4 separate regions of the Homo sapiens genome follow, and regions 2, 3 and 4 are each linked to region 1. The links come from fine-mapping of genetic effects on gene expression. A gene starts in region 1. Each other region holds a variant in brackets. All regions are shown on one strand. Distances are between the middles of the regions. Region 1 holds the start of MINAR1 (membrane integral NOTCH2 associated receptor 1). Region 2 has its middle 150 kb from the start of TRC-GCA5-1. Region 3 has its middle 56 kb from the start of TMED3. Region 4 has its middle 48 kb from the start of TMED3.

Region 1 (5,149 bases):
TACCAAGGTCATATAGTGAGTTTGAAGCATGCCTAGGTAGGAAGCCAACTGTCTCTGCCTGTCTTAAGCTTCATAGCCTTCTTTTCTTTTTTTGAAATTTACACCAAGTCTGCAGAGGAAGCTCCAAAAACAAAGATTTGAATGTCTGTCAGTGGGAAAAGCTAATCAGTGGGATTCAGCAATAGATTCACTGAGGAATCTAGAACCTTTTCCTAGCTAGTTTGAGAATGCATATTACCACCTGGCTGGAGCAGAGAGCAGGGCCTTCCCCTGCCTTCTCCTGGCCTTTAAATCCCTGCCCAGCAGGCACAGAGCCATAACTGCAACAATGGCTTCTGCTGCACGTTTGTCAAGATTTGAGAAAGGGCTCATTTTGGGAATCCTGAGTGAGAAAATTCCCAGATCAGTTCTGTGCGTCTGCTGTGAATAGAGGCAGGAGAGATATTTCAACCTCACAGGAGCACGACTGTTTCAGACAGAGTATCAGAGAGTTCATAAATATGATGGGTTTTAGAAAGTGGAAAGACATCAATTTTGCCTGGAGCATTGGCCAGAAAAAAAATCGCATTATGTATCTAAAATTCAAAAGGAACATAACACCAACAACAAAACCTTTTGTCTGCCTTCCAAATGTTAAGTGCTATACACTTCCTCACCAAACTCATCAGAAATTCAAATAAACTGTTTGATCTATTCTTTCTCTGGCAACTGACATTTATTTTCACATACTCCCTGATCTATGCAAGTCTCTCAGACACACACAATAAAAATCAGACTTTATTTATCAGACATTTAAGGTTTTTCCCTCCAGGCTCCAGTAGCCTGAGAAAATCTCTAAGTTTGCCCTCTCTGCAGACTCACCACCGTCTCCTGCTCTACCCTCCTCTGATACACAAGAGGAAAACCCATTAAAGGGTATTGTACAACTCCAGGCATCCTACTCTCTCTAATCCACTTCTCTTATTTCAACAATACCCAAAATATTGCCGCCGGGCTCTCAATGAGGGTCAATTCAAAAGACATCCTGTGGCCACAGCAGTGAGCTAGCTTCCACCTGCAGGGCGGGCCCAGTAATGCTGGTGTCTGAGAAATGACAAGGAAGGGCCATTTACCGTCCCTCTCCATCAGAGAGAGGTAGCAGTGGCAGCTCGTTTGCTGGAATAAAGGATGCATAACTGGCCACATAAGCTGCTTCCACACTCCTCCTAGCAACTCTTCATGCCATGCATAATATCACAGAGCATAAAATTGCAGAGCCCAGCAATGAGGCCTCCAACCACAGCCTCAGGGATGGCGGCATGGTTCTACCACCTCCCAACCACATGGCTCCATCCACAAGAGAAATGGGTGAGAAGCCTTTAAGATAGATGTACATTGTTTATAGCAGAAACTCTGGATTTTTCCTCTCCTTAGATCTTCACCAAACATAACTTAATTCCCGCTGAATTAAGCGCACCTGAACACAACCTTATCTTCCCTGCTGCTTAACACAGGCTACCAGCCGCTTACCACAGTAACAATCTTCCAGCAAAACAATGCTGGAGTGCGCGCTGTGAGAGTTAGGCTACTCAAATGTTACGCTCCCCGCACCGCCGGCGAGGGGACAAATGACTACTCTGATGGATTCGGTAGCCCAAGGAAATTATCGCTTTCGGAGGGATGGCGGCAGAGCAGGTCGGGCATGCTGCATTTGCCTGAGTTGGACCGCGTGTGAGCGAGCTTACGCTCCCCGCGGGCCAGGCCCAGCTCCCGTGCTTTCTGACAGGTGAAGTTGAGCATCCTTATCAAACCCTCGGGAAGAACAACGATCCCATTCCACATCAACGTGACTGGAAATCTCAATTTAAGAATTGGATGCACCGGTCGGTCCACCTGGGGCTTGTCCAGCTTTCCATCTTACTTCGCGCCTCTGATGTGTCAGGCTTTTTGCACAGATAGCTCACATATTTAACCCTCAAAACACCGTTTCCTGAAGCGATGCTCAACCAGGAAAACTTGCCCCAAACTGCATGATCATCTTCCGTGGCTTCTCTTCCCGAATCCCTGCTCTGTCCACCAGGTGCGGCCCCGCCCCGCATCCGCACACACCTTTTCCGCCGCTGCCCTGAGCGCAGCGACAAGGGCCCCCACACCTCCGCGGCCCGCAATGCTCCGGGGCCAAGCCGAGGCAGGGAGGCGCTCCCGCAGCTCCTGACTTTACAACCCGCGCGCGTGTGCACCGAGCCGCGGGCACACCGCGAACACACACACACACACACACACTCGTGCGCTCCCGCCCTCCGCCCGGCCCGGGCTCTCCGAACTTACCTCCGAGGCGCCCCGGGCGCAGGGCCCGCCCTTCTCTGCGGGTCTCCAGCGGCTGTTCGGCAGTGGTCCGCACGGCCTCCGATGCCGCGCCTCCGGTAGGCTCCAGAGTCAGCTGGTCACTGTCACCCGGCAGCCCGGATTCCGCGCCCAGGGTTGCACCCCGCGGATGGAGCGACTTTCGCCTCCGCCGCCCGAGTCCAGGTCTGCGCTCACACGCGCGGCGCTCACACGCGCGGCGCCCACCTGGCTGCAGTCCCGGCCAGGGCCAGCGCGCCGCGGCTGAAGGGGGCGCTCGGACTCCTCTGGGGCGGCGCGCAGCCGGGACAGTCTCGCATGACGCCCGCGCTCCAGCGGCCCCGGGACGCGGCCTCACCCTCAACCCCTGGCGGTCTCAGCCTCGGTCTTTGTGTCTCGGTCGGCGTCGCCACGTCATGGGCTTGCAGGCTGGGAGCAGCGCGGGCCGGGAACGCGGCTGGGGAGAGCTGGGCTGGGCTTCTCCACCGCCGCCCGCCCGGGGCGCTCAAGCTGGCGGGGCGCACGGGCAGCAACTGAGCGCACCCTGGGGGACCGAGGGGGCGGTCCCGGGGAGGGGCGCGGCGTCGCGCCAAGGGGGTGCCCTGCCAGAGGCTGCGGCGGAGGAAAGTGGGAGTCAGAGCGCCGCCGGAGCCCCGGGAAGGCGGTGTCCGTTCGGTCCCAGGTCGCGGCTGCAGCGCCGAGGGGAAAGCGAGCGGAAGCTGCGCGCTGGAGGGAGCCCACCACCCGGAGCCACCCGCGGGGTTCGCGTCTCCCCACTCCCCTATGCTGAAGGTGACTGCGGCCCCCAGTGGCAAGCAGGGGCGAAGAGTGTCCTCGGCTCTCCTCTTCCCAGGGAGCACTCGGGGCTTCGGACTCTGCAGTGGTTTGCAAGGCCAGGGCCAAGTGGTCACTTCACTCACTGATTTCTTCTTTTGGCTGGTGTCGGCTTAATTGGGATCCAGATTGGAAAGACTGTCACGTGACCACCCCTCCCTGTTTCTCTCCCCCCCCACACACACACACATACTCACTCATTCACACACCCCCAAACCCCACGAAACTGGGATGGGTTTCCAAAAGCTTACTGGATACATGGATCAGAAATGGAGGCCTTCCGTGTCACCCTGTGTGCTGGAGTGGAGCCGAAACACAGCAGCTGCCTCTGGTGGCCCCATCTAGACAGATCCTGTCCCTGTGGCTGGGGAAGCTCACGTTAACAGCACTTTGCATCCCCAAGACAAGAACAACACAAACAAAAAGGGTGAGGGAGGGAATCATAGTTTCGGGGCCATGGAATCTCATTTCAAAAGGAAAGCAACACCCCCACCCCCACCACCCCACCTCCTTCCCTGCCACCGAGTTACCGAACAGAGCTGCTAAGGAGCATACCTCCCCAGGGACAGAGCCCTCTCGGGGGCTGTGGCGGCTTTTCCCTGGCCAGCTTCTCCCTGACATTTGCTACCTGTGATCGGAGCAAAGGCCCTGGGGGGACGCAGATCTCAGTCTCAGCCTCCCTCAGCTGTCTGGATGTGGGTGGCAACAACGCTTTAAAAGTGAACTTGCAGCTAGTCCCAAGATTCATTATCTGATTCTATTTTTTGGTGCATGTTCAAATTTTACCTAATAAAAAGTTTTTTAAAAACAAAACAAGCAAACAAAAGTGAACTTGCTAATAAATGGATACTTTAAATAACGCCCTATCAGGGTGATACGTGTTGACAACTAGATTTTCCCAGAGCTCCTCTCTGCCCAAGTTTTTAAAATCCATTTGCCTTTATTACCTTATTGTGAGGCAAGTTCAAACCTATTCTAGTAAGGGCAAACGGATTTGAAAATGTAAAGTAGGAGTGAAGTTTGTTTGATTCACTGTACCTTGCCTAGTGATTTTAAATTTGTAAGTAGTGCTGGCTCTGTCTTTGGGTCCCAATATTGTTTGTGGCAAAAGGGAGCATAAGCTTAAGGAGTAAAGGGGGTCCCCAGGGTAAGAAGCCTGTTTGGTAATAGCTAAAGACTGTTTGGGGGCCTCATTGTCCTTTGAGTTCAGGGGCAGATTATTTGAGACCTGAACAAGTATATATTTCTCCCAAAACCGAGAACAGTTGAATCCACATGGAACAATTAGGACAGGAAGCTGCGTGGGATCTGCCTTTTCTTTTGCTTTGAGTTCTTCTTTCCTGTTTTTTCTCCTGTTTCTTCATGAAATACTACCACAGAGACCACATTCTAGAAGGAAAAACCATAGCTTCCTGAAACTCAGATTCAGTAAAAATCTGCTTTTCCCTCCCTTAGTTCAGCTGAGGTCGGCTAGAGGTTTATTTAATTTCTTTCTGAAATAACCCTTTTGGAAAACAACTTTTAAAATTTGAAACAGCATAAAAGGAAAATGCAGATTAGAGCTTTCTGATCCTACAGTTACTCAGTTCCAGCCAGAGTTGGCTAGTGGTGTTTACAGACACAAAGGATTCAAGTGGTTGCCCTTTTCCCCTCCTGGCTACTGATTTCTGTAAGCCTGCCCCAGAAGCCCTCATTCAAGCCTTGGGAGGTATTCCTCTCACTTGTGGCCACTCACCCCTCCCCAAGTGGACACAGATACAGTAACACCTCAGCCAGGTGCTGTCTCCTCCTATGCCCCCCTCTCTGGGAAGAGGCTGGAACTTGGACTCCCTCTCCCGTTGCACACACGCACAGTGGACATCTTTGTGCACAGCCCATCTTCCCCACCTGGGGAAAAGTGAAGGTTATTTGTCTGCACTACTCACTGCACCAGAGTGATACTAAATTATATTCACCATTTATCTATGGACCCAAGGCATTCAGTTTGCAGGGG
Region 2 (5,149 bases), 160 kb before region 1:
CCCTTCTGGAAGAGATAGATTCAACCTTCAGAGGCCTAGCAAGAAGAGCTATGCTAATACTCCTGTGCCATATATAATTAAAATGCTACCGAACCATGAAATCTATGTAAGAATGTCCAAAAAATTCTGATTTTCCCATAATGATAATTCAAGGCTTCTTTTTGGATAGATCGATATTCTTTTATTTTTTTCCTCCATTCTTTTATGTTCTTGCCTTGCCTGTCTGCCCAGTCTGCCTCTTGGGAAACCCAGTCCTGCTGGTCAGCCTCCAGTGATACTCCCATAGGACCTCCTGCTACCCTCTAACAGAGCTGGCACTTAACTCCCTTCACAGAAAATACTCACCGGTGCCTCACCTGTACCAGACTGTGAGCTTGTGGGGGCTAGGAATCATGTTCCTTTTGGGGACTGGATGCTGGGCACAGGTCCTGGCTTGTGGTAGGGGTTGAGTGAGTATCTGTTGAATGAGGGTCTTTGGTCATCTTGACACCTGGGTGGATGGATACCTCAGCAGCCAAAGCTAACAATAGAAAGGGATGATGAGTGGGGGTCAGGCAGGACTGTGGCCTGGGAGTATGGTGCCTACTGCAAGGGACCCTGGGAGGGAGATCAAGGCTTATTAGATAATAATTAGGGCTTGATTTAGACTTAGTTCTGGCTGGCACCGGAGGGCTGCTCTGATGAGTGGGGCATAAGGACAGAAGGTGCAGTTTGATCATGAAAATTTTGTTTCTGAGTGAGTGAGCAACTCAGAGCAGGACCTAGCTGTTGGAACTACTGGACTCAGGGTCTAGCATCTTTCCCCCATACCCAGCCTAACAGATATGAGCCAAGAATGCCAGGAAAGAGAATTGAAGCATCAACTTTGTTGGATGCAGAAAAGAAGGAGAAGGTCAAGGAAAGACTCTGACCCGATGGACATAGGAGTGTCTGATGCTCTTCCTGGATACTAAATCTTTGGCCACAGAAGTCTAGGTGAAGCTGTGGTTCCTGATCATAACATACTCCAGCCTCTAGGAGGAGCTCAAGAACCTCACAGGGTGGACCATGGGCTCCTACCCACAGGTGAAGCTGTGGTTCCTGCTCATAACATACTCCAGCCTCTAGGGGGAGCTGAAGAACCTCACAGGGTGGACCGGGGGAGTAAAGCTGATGGGGCAGAGAGGTCATGTGATTGGATCGCACTCTTAGGAGGCAGAGTGTGCACAAGAAAGAGGTTTAAACTGTAATTTCTTGGCTTATTTCTTTTTAGATCGTTTTACTGTCATTGGCCAGTGTCTCATATTCTTACACTCTTTCTCCTTCATCATCAGAGACAAAAAGGAGACAAATATACTTGTCCCAGAAAAGATGTCTGTGGTAGGGAGTTCAGTGTCTCCAGTTGAGCAGGAAAGACAGACGCTGATGAAAGAGACAACTCTTGTGACAGAGTCTTGCCCTACGTAGCAAGTCTGAAGCCCAAGGCATTTTAAAAGCAGGTATTTTCAACAGCGGCCTGTAAATGCACATTTTAAATAACAGATTGTGCACATGACCTAACACTGAATCCATTAAAACGGGAACTGTGGCTTATTTTTAAAGCCTCCACTAATGCTGCTTTGGCTTAAAAAAAAAAAAAAAAGCCTCATGTGCTATCCATAGTACAGAATTCCAGTCCCATAGAGTTCCATATCAATAACATCTGCTGATTCTGCCTTTTGAACAAAGTAATCAATCCTCCCCTGGAGGCTGCAGTGGAGAAAAGGAAGCACACAGTCTGGGAAGCCATCTGTGCAATTCTCGACCTGGCCGGTGTCACCTCAAATGTCGCCGAATGCACTTGACTCCTCCTGGGAAGCACAGAGGGGCCTTCAAGGAGACCCCTCGTCCTGCCATTTTGCAACCTGACTGCACTGCTTCTAATTATTGCATTTTTCAATGTGTTTATATGTGTCATAGCTTCCGAGGTGAGGCACCCACCAACTCTGACACCACTCCTGGCTGTGGGAACAGCTGTCAGGGATGCTGCCTGTCCAGGTGTCTGGAAGATGATTTATAGTATGTATCTGAGCAGACTGGTGATATTTTATTAATCAAAATGTCAGAAAATCTAATGATAATGTGCTTGCTACAGGTCTTAACATTTTCAATTTTTTAAATAAACATTTTAGATGCCGACTTTGGGTTTCTGTATAAAAGATAATATTATGGAATACCATTAGAGAAACCTTAATGTTAGTATTAATATTGGGGGATAATAAGAATTTATTTTGCTTTTTTTTAAACAAAGATTACAGTTTTACTGTATGCACATTTAAGAAATCCCAAGCTGATCTCATTCTACAGAGACAGGGACTATTATTCTTGTTTTGTATCTGGGAAAAATGAATGTTTCAAAAGGCATATTCGTAAGTAATCAATGAGTAAGATTTTTGATGGTTTGTTTTTCATATTTTTAAAATGCCTTCTGCATGCCTTGACTTGCAAAGTTCTTTCACAAATGCTGTCGTTTTAAACTTTA[C/T]TTTCAAAACATTTTTGTGTAATAGATATTATTATCTCCACTTTACGGATGAGGAAATCAGGCTTATGTAACTCACCTACATCACGCAACCAGTAAGTTTCAGAAATGGGTTTCAAACTCAACTCTCTGGCAGACCGTTCCCTCTCTTAGCCCAGTACACTATCTCATTCGCTTATTTGCCCATTACTTTGATCAGCTAGCATCTGAGTGTCTGTTTCCCATGTTCCCAGACTTGAGCACAACATCAGAAATACAGAGGCAAAAGCACAGGATTTATTCTTGAGGAGTTCCCAGTCAGATGGTGAGTTGAGAATGTCAATTAAATATGCTAAGATACTTGAGAATATTTTAAAATTTAAAATGATTATTTAATACACATCCATTGAGCACTTATATGTGCCTAATATTATGAGAAACACCAGAGACATAAAGGAGAATGAGACGTAGACCCCTATGTTAGGTGTCCCAGTCTAGCTGGTAAGCAGCATAGAGTCAATAAATCTCACACTGCAAACTCAGGTGTGCAAGAAATGCACCTTTGTGTTCATGATCCAACTTAGTTCTATTTTAGCTCATGTGGTACGAGAGCAGAGGAAACTTAACTTCCGTCAGTTGGGGTGTCAAGGCTTTTGCATGTATGTAGCTGTTGGGAGGTGGACAAGGTTCTTGATGATGAATCCACACAGGTCAGAGCAAAGGCATCTTTTATTCTCATCCACGTGGCCCCTTTCTATGCTGCCTCTGGGGGGATTGTCATACCTGGTGGATTGGGAACATTTCTACTCATTCTGCTCTGCAGGCTGGAAAGGAGTTGGGTACCAAGGCCACCTGAATACTGCTGGCAAAATGGTTCATAGCTGCCTCCTTTATCTGTCCCTTGATTCAGAGACCAAGGATGTGCGACCTAGAAAATTGCTGATCTGTTAGCCTGATATATGAAATTGCCTGGCTGTTGTTTTCTGATGGGCCACCCACTATTTTTCCTTATTGATTGCAAACTCCCCCAAAACAGCTCCAAGGTAAGTAGAAAAGGAAGTGACCCGTGAATTCCAGAAGGTGCAATTCCTGAAAGACCCAGAACCCTCTGAAAGTAATGTATGCTGGGAACAGTAATTTCAAAGTACTTCCAGTAGGTGGAAGTCGCCTGGAATTGGGAACTACACTGGGATGTGTGCATGTCAATTTACGTTCTGCTGTAATCAGAGAAAAGTATTTGGTTATTTCACAAGGAGACAGAAAGTCAGGTCAAGAGCAATCTGCTCACCTTGTCTTTTGACAATTCCCTTCTTTAAACATATCTTGCCTGGTTAAGGAAGAGTGAAGAAGAGCAGGGGTGGGAAAGGGGTTCTAACAAAAATCTTGCAAAATAAAAGATGGAGAACAGCACCAGACAGACAAAGAGGAAAGAAGACTCCTCTGAAAATTACCTACTGTAGGCTCTAAAGAAGAAATTGCAAGATGGTCTCTGGCAAATTCAACACACGGTGGAGCTGCAGTGCAGTCAGGGCACTGAGGCAGAAGCCTAGTCCTGCAGCTGGAGCAAATCCCAGCAGGTTAGGGAAGACCAAAACTAAGCATTCTGGCCTCTGGCTTCATGTTTCAGGCAGTACCCACTGCTCTGGCCCTCTCTTGACTCTATTGAACTGTTGTAATTTTCCATAAAGGCTTTGCTTCTGTCTCTAGATTATCAACGTGCAGCCCCAACCCCACTCCTGACACTTGCCTGACACAGCTTTTACATTACAGGTAGATATCACCAATTCTGTTTGGGTTACCATGGCTCCCAGAGCTTCTTTCTATTTCTATTCTACCACTTACCATACTGCATGATAATTGTTCTGTTTTTTAATTTTTCTGTCTTCCTATTAGACTCTGTTCTTACTGCTAGCAAAGAATGATTTTTGTTGTTGTTGCAACCACCATTTATTGGGCACTCTCTTTGGGTATGCTAAGCCCTTTATGTGTAGTGTCTCACTTAGGCTCAACCCAATCCCATACCTACTCCTGCCCTACAGATAGAGAAGCTGAGGCATAGAGAGAGTAAGCACCTTGCTTGAGTGCATAGTGCTGGCAAGGGATGGAGCCAAGTTTCAAATCCATGTTCTTTGGAGCGCAAAACCTGTTTTCTTTGCCAAGAAGCTATACCCCTTCTGGAGGCCCTCAGAAGCCACAGAGGGAAAATATTTAGGAGCTAATAGGCACACAAGTAACGGGCCAGGACTGGAAACCTTGTGGGGTGATGGTGGAGTGGTGTGTACATAAGAGCTGGAGATATAGATTCTGTGAAGCTGAGATGAAGGAGGCCCTCTCATTCTTCTTGGTTGGGCTAGGGGAGGAAGACCTTCCTTCTACTTCCTAAGCTCCAGCAGTTCTGTGACCAGGAGATTGCTAGTCCGGGGAACATACCTGGATCTCAGTGGATGGTTCCAGGGTTTAGCGGTCTTGCTAAGGTTAATAACACCACCTCTGATGTTGCTGGGGTCCTGGGAGCGACATTTAGAAGCTCCCAGGCCTGGACTCAAATCAAAGACGAGTTCTGGGTCTCAGGAAGCCCCTATAGGACTGTTATTGTGCTTCAAGTTGTCATTTCTTTATTTCTCTCTCCACACAGAGCCATTGCCCGTCCCACTCATTCAATAAGCAATTACC
Region 3 (5,149 bases), 65 kb after region 1:
GGATTTATAAACCAAAGCATGCCCACTAGGAAACTCTCAACTTCTGCCCTGCTTGAGCAGAATCCAGGAAGCTGCCCTAGCAGGGACCTGCTATTGCCACTTGCTGGAGGTGACTTCAGATGCAGAAGGGGAAAAAAAGGATCGCCCTTCCTTCTGAGAAACAGCAAAGAGGCCCCTGACAGCCAGGAGCTGGCCTGGCACAGCAGGGCCTTGGTGTTCTGTTAGACATAAACCACTTCACAGAACATCAATACCCAACAGGGCTACTCAGGGCCAATGATGGACCAAGACAAAAACAAGACTACTCCATAATTATGTGTGAACACAGACGAAACATGAGCACTGTTCAAATCATAAAAATGACCTAACATTCCCCCATTCTGGCTAATATTGTAACTGAAATGCGGGTTAGTTGCTTACCGCTTGCAGAGTCCAATTAACAAGAGCGAGGTCTGGTATAAAGGGACTTATTTCCAAAGCCAGCTTAGGGGAAGAAGCACAGGCATCCCACCTTTAAATGTACCACTTTGCTTTGGGAACAGAAAGTGGGCACTTTTAAAAAGCAGGGGAGGAAGCCAGCAAGGTGGCAGTCTGCATGTTAGCTTGGTGCCTTACTTACCAGGCGGTCAAGCTAGTGATAGCTGGCATCTTCATGGGCAGGACTAAGCTGAAAACTACCCAGGTAGGAGAGAGTAGCAGGCATGTTTTTCAACTATTATCTCTCGAGGCAACCCCCTGGTGGGTGAGTTTCCTAGTGGGCATGCTTTTGTTTATAAATCCACTGTTAATTCTCAAAGAAAGTTCTGTCTTGGAGAACATAGTTAGACGAACTTGCCCTGTAGGGAATGTCTGGTGAAGAAGAGGTAAAAGGCTATATTTGCATTTCTTTTTTTTTTTTTTTTTAAGACAGAGTCTCACTCTGCCACCCAGGCTGGAGTACAGTGGTGCGATCTCGGCTCACTGCAACCTGACCTCCGAGGTTCAAGTGATTCTCCTGCCTCAGCCTCTCGAGTAGCGGGGATTACAGCCGTGTGCCACCATGCCCAGCTAATTTTTTTTGCGTGTGTTTTTAGTAGAGATGGGGTTTCACCAAGTTGGCCAAGCTGGCCTTAAACTCCTGACCTCATGTGATCTGCCCACCTTGGCCTCCCAAAGTGCTGGGATTGCAGATGTGAGCCACTGTGCCCAGCCTTATATTTGCATTTCTAAAGGGTTAAGTAGGAAGTGGAAAATCAGGGGAACAAGAAGAGAAAATAATAAAATGATTAAAAATAATTAAACTAACTCTTAAAAAAATGGAGGTGCTCAGTTACAATATGACTGACTACTGCTTCTTTACCAATTACAGTTTTGGCCTCACCTAGTTTTCTCTCCTTCTAGATTAGATTTATTAAGATACCCAAACATAGAATTAACCCCCAATTCCTGGCATCATCTAACATCTCTTCCTTAATTAAACTTTCCCCAAAAACACTGAATACAAGCCCAAGTCCTATCATAGGTCCTTTCTAACACTATCTTACAGAGGTACCCCATAATTCCCACAGTGTGCAAGCTCCCTCACAGCAAGAAGCAAACCCCACCTTTTTCACTAAAGGAGTTCTCAGTGGTCTTTGGCTGGAGCATTAACACTTCCAACTTCCAATCTGCTGCCAGCAAAGTATGTTGGATTCTGACCATCCATTGGGAATTATGATCAAAAAAGCATGAAAGCTTGAAAATAAGCTCTAAGCATGAAAGTAAAGGAAAATCTTGAGTTCCTTCAAGGGAAATTCCAGGCACCTAGCTGGCCCTCAGAAAGAAATAAGGAACTTGATAAGCAAGAAGGTAATAGTAACTTAAAATAATAGCTAAAGAAGCCAGAATCACATGTTTGGTTCTCCTATAGAAACTAAAAACAACATCCTAACATACGTCCCTGAGTTGTTTTTCAGAAACCTGGGTCCCCACCAAATGGATCCACTGGCACTGAGACCCCAGGCAATGGGGAGCTGAGGACTGAGCTCTGACCACTATTCTTTCTTCTAAATTACTTCCTGAGGGGCCTGGATAAAGGTATACTCACAAACAGAGCTAATTCTTTTCTACTGACCTCAAATTTTTCAACAAAGCTTCTCTTCCTTAACAAATTGCAAATCGGAAAATCTTTGAATCTACCTTTGATCTGTAAGACCCTGTTTCAAGACATTTAACCCTTTAGGGCAAAACCAATGTGCAATTTCCACGTATTGATTTATTACTTTACATGTAACTTCTACTTTTCTGAAATTTACCCCTGCCTTTAAAAATCCTGTACCTGCAACCCATCGGGTTGTCCAACAGCCTTTGCTGGCAGCATATTCGGAGATGTAAGTGTCAACACCTCAGCCAAAGACCATCCAGAACACCTGTGGTGGAACAGGTGGGGTTTACTTCTTGCTCTGAGGGAGCTTGCACGCTCTGGGAACTGTGGGGTACCTCTGCAAGAGAGTGTTAGAAAAGACCTATGATAGGACTTGGGCTTGCATTAGGTGTTTTAGGGGAGAGTTTAAGGAAGAGGTGTTAGATGCTGCCAGGATTTGGGTGTCAGGACTGAAGCATTAGCTTCCCAATCTTCCTTGCTTTGTGCCCTACAAATAAAAACCTCCCTTTCTCCCACTGCAAACCCAGTGTGGATCGCTGGTCCTACTGCACCAGGTGAGAAGACTTCAAGTTTGATTTGATAACACCACCTGAGTGCTGGAGT[G/A]ATTTCCACTTCACTAATCCAATTTTCTATAGTATCCAGTAACCTGCTGACCAACTCTGTTTTAGTTCTGCATCATATTGGACTTTGTTAGGCACCATATGAGATGCATTTGGTTAAAGATGCCTTTAGGTCTCCACCTAAATCCTTCACCCGGAAAGAAGAATAAAAAGCTAATTCAGGACCCAGCAGCTGGGGTCAGGAGAAAATGAAACTTGGTTTATAATCAGCTCCACTTGAGGTAAATATGAATTGAGATTGTGCTGTGCTTTTTGAAAACAATGACCTAGCCATCATTATTCTCTGCAACTGACTTGGAAGTTTCCATCTGATGAGTCAAAACCAGTCACTTGTATATTAATGAAAGAAAAAAAAATGCACCTTAAAGTGCAGCACATTAAATACACAAAGGGCTGCTGGAATGCTGAAAAGTGAAAAAGAGTCCAACTCCTTCCTCAAAGTCACACAGCTAATAAGACATTCACCGTCACCTTGGAGCTTTAGATTTGTGAAGCCATCCCCAGGCTCTGTGCCTAACATTCAAGTAGCTGCCACCACGAGCTTAGCTTTAGGATCTAAATGGCCAGCTTTTCCAAAGATGTGGATAATGGTGAGATGGAGCAGGGACCCCTCTTAGGAGCCTGCTGGGCACTATCCCCGAACCAAGCATGGAAATAAAGGAAAATCTTTAGTTCCTTCAAGGGAAATTCCAGGCACCTAGCTCGCCCTGAGAAGTAAGGGAGCAATTTGATTAGCAAGAAGGTAATAGCTTATAACAACAGCCATGGAAGTTAATCATGAGATGTTTGGTTCTCTATAGAAACTAAATGTTGCGGATGAGCGGTGACTATCTGGGCCAGTGGCTGAGGGGTATAAGAATTTACCAAGGCAGTTGTGGATAAAGAAAGGCAGATTCATTAGGAACATATAAAAATAATGTTGCAAGAGAGCAATGGGCAGAATCAGCAAGAGAGCAGCTGACTGCAAAGAAACAAAGGCTTCCCGGAGATTTTATAGGATAGTTCTTGGGCTGCAGAGTGCTGTGTACAGTACTGATAACGCCAAGGTAGCAGGAAGGTAACTTGCATTCTTCCATCAACCTAGGTGTTTGATGATATTGTGAGCTATATACATTACCTACACAGGAGGGCCCTATGTGCTGGGTCATAAAGAAAGGCAGACCTATAGCTTATCTCACCCTCTTTTTGTTTATATGTCCTGAACCACGAAGAAAGGCAGACCTATAGCTTGTCTGCTTTATCTCTTTGCTTTCCTCTGGTCCTGCCAGCCTGACTCCTTTTCCCTAATTAGGACTCCACACAAGATAACATCTTAACATATGTCTCTGACTTGTTCTTCAGAAACTCGGACCCCACCAAATGGATCTGCTGGCACACAGACCTCAGATATGGAGGGACCGAGAGGACTGGATTCTTGCTGCTGTGAAAGGAAAATAAAAACTTGGAACCCCAAATCTCTGTGCCAAAAGGAAAAAATTAAGCTGAAAGCTGAGTCATGCAAGAAGCTGCCTTTTCTTTTGCTCCTAAGCAGAGAGCTACAGATAAAAGGTTAAATATCTCCACAGATAGCTACTCTACGTTCACCTTATCTTACGTAAAGTGCTGATTTACTGAGCACCAGACAGACACATAATTGACTGTTCCCCTACCTGCTCCTTTTCTCTTGCAACACGTGGATTCAGTAATGTGACCATACCCTCCTTCTTTCCCCTCCAGTCTGCTTTTCCCCTTTTAAATATTGAAGCCCTCAAAATCACCTTTGGAGAAAGGCACAGACTTGTCTCCTGGGTACATCCTTAACCTTGGCAAAATAAACTTTTGAATTAATTGAGACCTGTCTCGGATACTTTTTGGTTTGCACTGCCGTTCTTTGTTCTAAATTTCTTCCTGAGGGGCCTGGAGGAGGTGATGTCCACAAGCCAGACCTAACATTCTTTTCTGCTGACCCCAAGTCTTTAGACAAAGCTTCTCGTCTTTAATCAGTTACAAATCAGAAAATCTCTGAATTCACCTATGACCTGTGGGCCCCTGCTTTGAGCTGTCCTGTCTTTTTAGTTCAAACCAATGTGTAATCCCCATGTATTTGAAAGCAAAACAGGAGAGTTCCCTGATCCCCCTCTCAGGACATTCAGCAGGGGTGTGAATCGCCTGTTCCCTCGTCTCCGCTGCTCAAACCCCTGAGGGGAGAGGGAGCATGCAGAGGGACAGATGCAGGAGACCAAGTGGGTATGCATTACAGTGTGCCCTTTTAGCCCTGCCATCCGCAGACAGCTTAAGTGTTAATCAGTTCAATGGACCCTCTGCCTTTTTGCAAGGGCAGAGGGCCGGTGTGACACCTTTCTGTATCCCAAGCTCTTTCCCAGTGTCCTGGAAGAATCAAGTCACACATGGGCTTGAAGGATGAATG
Region 4 (5,149 bases), 73 kb after region 1:
TTATTTTACTGTTCAAGTGATTAATACTTTTTTTAAAAAAGGAAAATAATTTTCTACATTTATTTTATAAATGGACACATTCCGAAATCTCTTGTTAATTCTAAGTTGCTTACTTGATTCTCTTGACATAATTTCAGGTCATTAATTTAGTAATTATTTGGGCAAAATATGTATTGGTCATAATATTGAATGTTTAAATATTTTTTTTTTTTTAATTTTTTTATTTCCATAAGTTATTGGGGAACAGGTGGTGTTTGATTACATGAGTAAGTTCTTTAGTGGTGACTTGTGAGATTTTGATGCACCTCTCACCTGAGCACTGCACCCAATTTGTAATCTTTTATTCCTCATCCCCTTCTCACCATTTCCTCCTGAGTTCCAAAAGTCCACTGTGTCATTCTATGCCTTTGCGTCCTCATAGCTTAGCTCCCACTTATAAGTGAGAACATATGACGTTCGGTTTTCCATTCCTGAGTTACCCGGGTTGCTGTGAATGCCATTAATTCATCCCTTTTTATGGCTGAGTAGTGTTCCATCGTATATATTGAATGTTTAAATAGTTTTAAAATGTAAAATAAAATTCTTTTACCTGAGTTACCTCACTTAATCCTCACAAAAATCATATGAGATAAGTTTTATCATTCTTATTTTACAAACGAAGAAACTTAGGCTACCGAAACCTAAGTCTTCTGTAATCCACACCACCAGCAAATGGCAGAATTGGAACTTCAACACTTGGAATTGGTTAAAAATATCAGTGACATATGGGCAGGCCCAGTGGCTCACACCTGTAATCCCAGTACTTTGGGAGGCCAAGGTGTGAGGATGGCTTGAGGCCAGAAGTACAAGACCAGCCTGGGCAATATAGCAAGACTCTCTCTCTACAAAAAATAAAAATAAAAATAAAACACAATTAGCCAGGCTGAGCAGTGTGCACTTGTAGTTGTAACTGCTTGGGAGGCTGAGGCAGGCAGATCATTTGAACCCAAGAGTTCAAGGCTGCAGTAGTTATGATCACAATAGTGCACTCCAGCCTGGGTGACACCGTGAGACTCTGTCTCTAAAAATATAAAAATTAAAAAAATAAATTACATGGAATATTATGTATTCGTTTTAAGTGATTCTGTAGCATACTGTCTAAATCAATGTTCCACTATTGTTTTTCGTTTTATGGCACACACAGAAAATGATAGTATCAGCATTGTCACGACACGTAGAGTGGACAGCCAGCCTGGGACTCTGATCACTTTTGGACACCTGCATCGCTGGACATATATAATCCACTTAAGGCACTGCTGTTGGGATGTCGCGGTCTAACGATATGTAAAGATGTCTGTTTTACAGTGACACACTACAGTGTACTGTTGTAAGGAATACATGAGTAAATTTGTAACAATGCCTGCAATAGCAAAAGTCCTCAGTTAGTAGCTATTATTGCCCTTTCTCTTCTGCCCTTGGGTCTACACAAAACAAGTCTTTCTTATGCGTCAGGAATGTCCTTTTGATAGAAGACAGTAGCTATGTGACCCCTGAAGAGTGCTTCCCCACCTAAACACCCCTGGTTCCTCGATGGCATGACCAAGTCTATCCCACAGAAACCTGGGCCCTCTACTTTAATATCCATGTAAGATGGCTCAAGATTCCATCCCACATTCTGTGTGGAGCCCACCCCACACCCAGCTCAACCCTCAACAGTTGTGTGAATTTCTAGGTGGATTCAACATCTTGGGGGTCCTCCTGCACCTGCTGCACTCTGTGGCATGCTCCTGGCTATTGTTCTCGGATCCCATGGCTACCTGCCCTCTCACTGACCCGCTGTGCCTGTCCATGGCCCCAGATCCTAACTTTTTCTTCCCGCAGTCTCACTAACAATTGAGATTGGATTTACTACAGTTTTGCTAAAGGTTTTGGGTAACAGTGGAAGAGTATAACATAGTAAAGTACAGGCAAGACACTATATTCATCATTAGACTTTAATGTCCTAAAAATTTATCAGACATTCCTCCCAAGGGCATTCTTGAAGCATAAGAGCAAGACCTGTTCTGTGTAGACCCACGGGCAGAAGAAGAAGGGAGATAATAGCTACTACCTAGGGCTTTCGCTATTCCAGGCATGTATAATAATAAGGGCTTTACTTGTATTTACTCACTTATTCCTTTTGCTTGGTGTGATCAGCTGATTGTTAACTTTTTGATACTATACGTGCTTTCTCTCCATTTTCTGAGACCTTGATCTCTCAATCTCTTCAGCTGTCAGAAACAACTCCCAAATTCTATACCATTTATTTGTGGAGCTGTTTATTCCTCTTTTTTTCCCCTTACCCTTAAAAAGGTCATGCCCTGGACAGGGAGACTCACCTCTCAGCTGATTTTTCTATATAAGGAGCCTTCCCCTTCAAATTGGCCGGGTATAGTGGCTCATGCCTGTAATCCCAGCACTTTGGGAGGCTGAGGTGGGCAGATCACTTGAGGTCAGGAGTTCGAGACTTGGTCAAAATGGTGAAACCCTGTCTCTACTAAAAATACAAAAATTTGCCAGGCATGGTGTGGGTGCCTGTAATCCCAGCTACTTGGGAGGCTGAGGCAGGAGAATGGCTTGAACCTGGGAGGCGGAGGTTGCAGTGAGCTGAGATTGCGCCACTGCACTCCAGCCTGGGCAATAGAGCAAGACTCCGTCTCAAAAAAAAAAAAAAAAAAAACTGAGCCTTCTCCTTCAAATAAACTGTACCTCTCCTCTGGTATGCAAATAAGCACACAGTCCACTTTTGTTTTGAGTTGCAATTTTGTTCCTTCCAGCTACATAAGCCTCCTCACTTCCCTTGTC[T/G]TCCCCCGTGGGCAGAATCCAATTTGTCTGAGTGCCTCTCCTGGGATGGCCAGAGCTGTACTCCTGATAGATGAGGTGCTGCTGCACTCTCTCTTGTTCCAGCCACTGCACTCCCAGTAGATGCAGGTTTGGCATGCAAAAAGCCCCTTCCCATCCCCACTCCCTTTCTTAGTTATCCTCAGACTGATCCAGACTGGAGGAATCAGGAACCCTGTCCAGGCCACGGCTCTCCTGTCCCTGCTATCCACCACCCACTTATCTGAGAAGTTCACAGCAAACTTTTCCTTCAAGGAGCAAATAGGCCCAGCCATTTCACCCCAGGGAAAGCTGCATGGAAGCTGCCTGCTTTCTATGAAATTTCGTTTTAAGCATCAGGCAAATAAGAAAATGTTGGGGTCTTAGAAAGTATTTTTTCTTTGCTGAATATCCACTGATGGAAATACTGTTAACTGGAAGGCAGTGGTCAGAGGTCCTAGGGTGGACCCGTGATCTCCTTCGGGATGGGCCTGAGGGATGCTTCTGTTAACCTCCTAATCTTGAAGTTGGATCCTACAGATGGCTGTCACAAGAGACAGACTCCACCCCCACCATCCCCAGCTTCCATCCCAGCCAGGTACCAGTCACTCTCAACCTGCTCAGTCTAGACTGCAATCCACAGCCAAACATAATTTTCTTCTGTCAGCAGCATCCCTGAACCATTTGCCTAGACACACACAGTAGGGTTGTTGTCTGAAACCTCAGAAATAAAAAGTGAGCCATTTAAAGTTTTATGCTTTGAAGTGGCAAAATGATGTCACACTTGAAGGTGCTGGCCTCAAGTCCTGACCTTGCAGCTGTCTGCTTCTCCTGGCTGTTCACAGGGTTGTGAGACAGCAGGCCCCCAGAAAATTCCTCGGACACAGCCTCCTCCCAGCCTGGCTCTGCTCACTGCGCTATCCAGTGCCTTGGGCCTCTGATGGAAGACAACGAGTAGGACTGACCTCCATACTCTGGTCTTCCCCTCATGACATAAACAGGCATGCTTCAGTGGCCCATCCCGTTAGGGTCAACTTGCTGATTGCTGATTTATCTGATAAATGAACGTATGCTCACAGAGAAGCCGAGACGGGTACATTAATAGTGTGTTACATCTCCCAAGAAGGATGTTGATACAGAATTTTCAAACAGAGCAATTGGAGACTTAGACTCACAAGACCAAAGAATCCTAGGGTATGATGGCATGCAGGGACTTAAACAATGGTATAAACCAATGCATTAACTTCCCAGATGGGAAAGCTGAGGCTCAGAAAAGGGAAGTGAGTTTTTCAGTCCTTTGCAACTACTAAGAAGTACAGCCATGCTTCCTGATTTCCCAGCCAGTGTTCTTCCAACTGCCTTTGCAATCAACTGAAATCAGAGTGGACTCAATACACAGAGCGGAGGGCCGCCAGCTCCCTCTACAGTGGCCCAGACTCCAAATGCCCCCAGCACGGCAGTCCTCCCAGTAGGAGATGAGCCTACATTCACAGACAATAGGACCCCAAGGAGAAGGAGGTATAACACTAGTTCAAGAAGACGTGTTCTGCTTTAAAAAAAAAAAAAGTTTAAATTCTAAAATTAATAATGTAATAATGTGCTTGCTTTTTTTTTTTTTTTTTTTTTGAGGCAGGGTGGAGTGCAGTGGCACAATCACAGTTCACTGCAGCCTCAACCTCCCAGGCTTAAGCAATCCTACTGCCTCAGCGTCTCAAGTAGCTAGGACCACAGGCATGCACTGCCATGCTTGGCAATTTTTTTTTTTTCTGTAGAAATGGGAGTCTCACTATGTGGCCCAGGCTGGTCTTGAATTCCTGGGATCAAGCGATCCTCCCACCTCAGTTTCCCAAAATGCCAGGATTATACACACGAGCCACCATGCCCAGCCGTGTGCTTGTTTTTTTAAAATATGAAAGAGTATAACATAGAAAATGGATCCTCTTCTCCAGAAGTATTAGCTATTAAGCTGGTGTATCTTTTCAAATGCTCATACACATATAAACATATGCATATTTGTATATGTTTATATGTTTGTTCATAACTGTGTTTATGTGTATATTCTTTTTATTTTAAATGGGTTCATACTACACATTCTGTTTTTCAGTTTGCTTTCCCTTGTTTCCCGGAATAGATCAAGCACACTTGTCTATGTCTGCACATGTAAATGTCCCTCTTATTTTAATGCCTACATAATATTCCACAGTGTTGCATATCTTACCTTATTTAACTTACTGATGAATATTTGGATTGTTTTCAGTTTGGGGAGGTTATAAATAATGCTGCAGTGAATATCTCTACACAGATCTTAGAG

Evidence for each region.
Region 2: its variant is fine-mapped to the expression of MINAR1 in whole blood (TOPMed, PIP above 0.99).
Region 3: its variant is fine-mapped to the expression of MINAR1 in whole blood (INTERVAL, PIP above 0.99).
Region 4: its variant is fine-mapped to the expression of MINAR1 in pancreatic islets (PISA, PIP 0.95).

The regions. Positions count from the first base shown.
Region 1 is chr15:79,429,699-79,434,847 of GRCh38, reverse strand. MINAR1 (membrane integral NOTCH2 associated receptor 1) reads right to left here and starts at 2,512. Exons shown (of 4, transcript NM_015206.3): 1 at 2,308-2,512.
Region 2 is chr15:79,592,148-79,597,296 of GRCh38, reverse strand. No RefSeq gene overlaps it. Among named protein-coding and RNA genes, the nearest start is that of TRC-GCA5-1, 150 kb to the left of the region's middle. The variant C/T (reference allele first, on the strand shown) is at 2,501.
Region 3 is chr15:79,364,848-79,369,996 of GRCh38, reverse strand. It overlaps a transcript of TMED3 not described here. Among named protein-coding and RNA genes, the nearest start is that of TMED3, 56 kb to the right of the region's middle. The variant G/A (reference allele first, on the strand shown) is at 2,726.
Region 4 is chr15:79,356,780-79,361,928 of GRCh38, reverse strand. It overlaps a transcript of TMED3 not described here. Among named protein-coding and RNA genes, the nearest start is that of TMED3, 48 kb to the right of the region's middle. The variant T/G (reference allele first, on the strand shown) is at 2,824.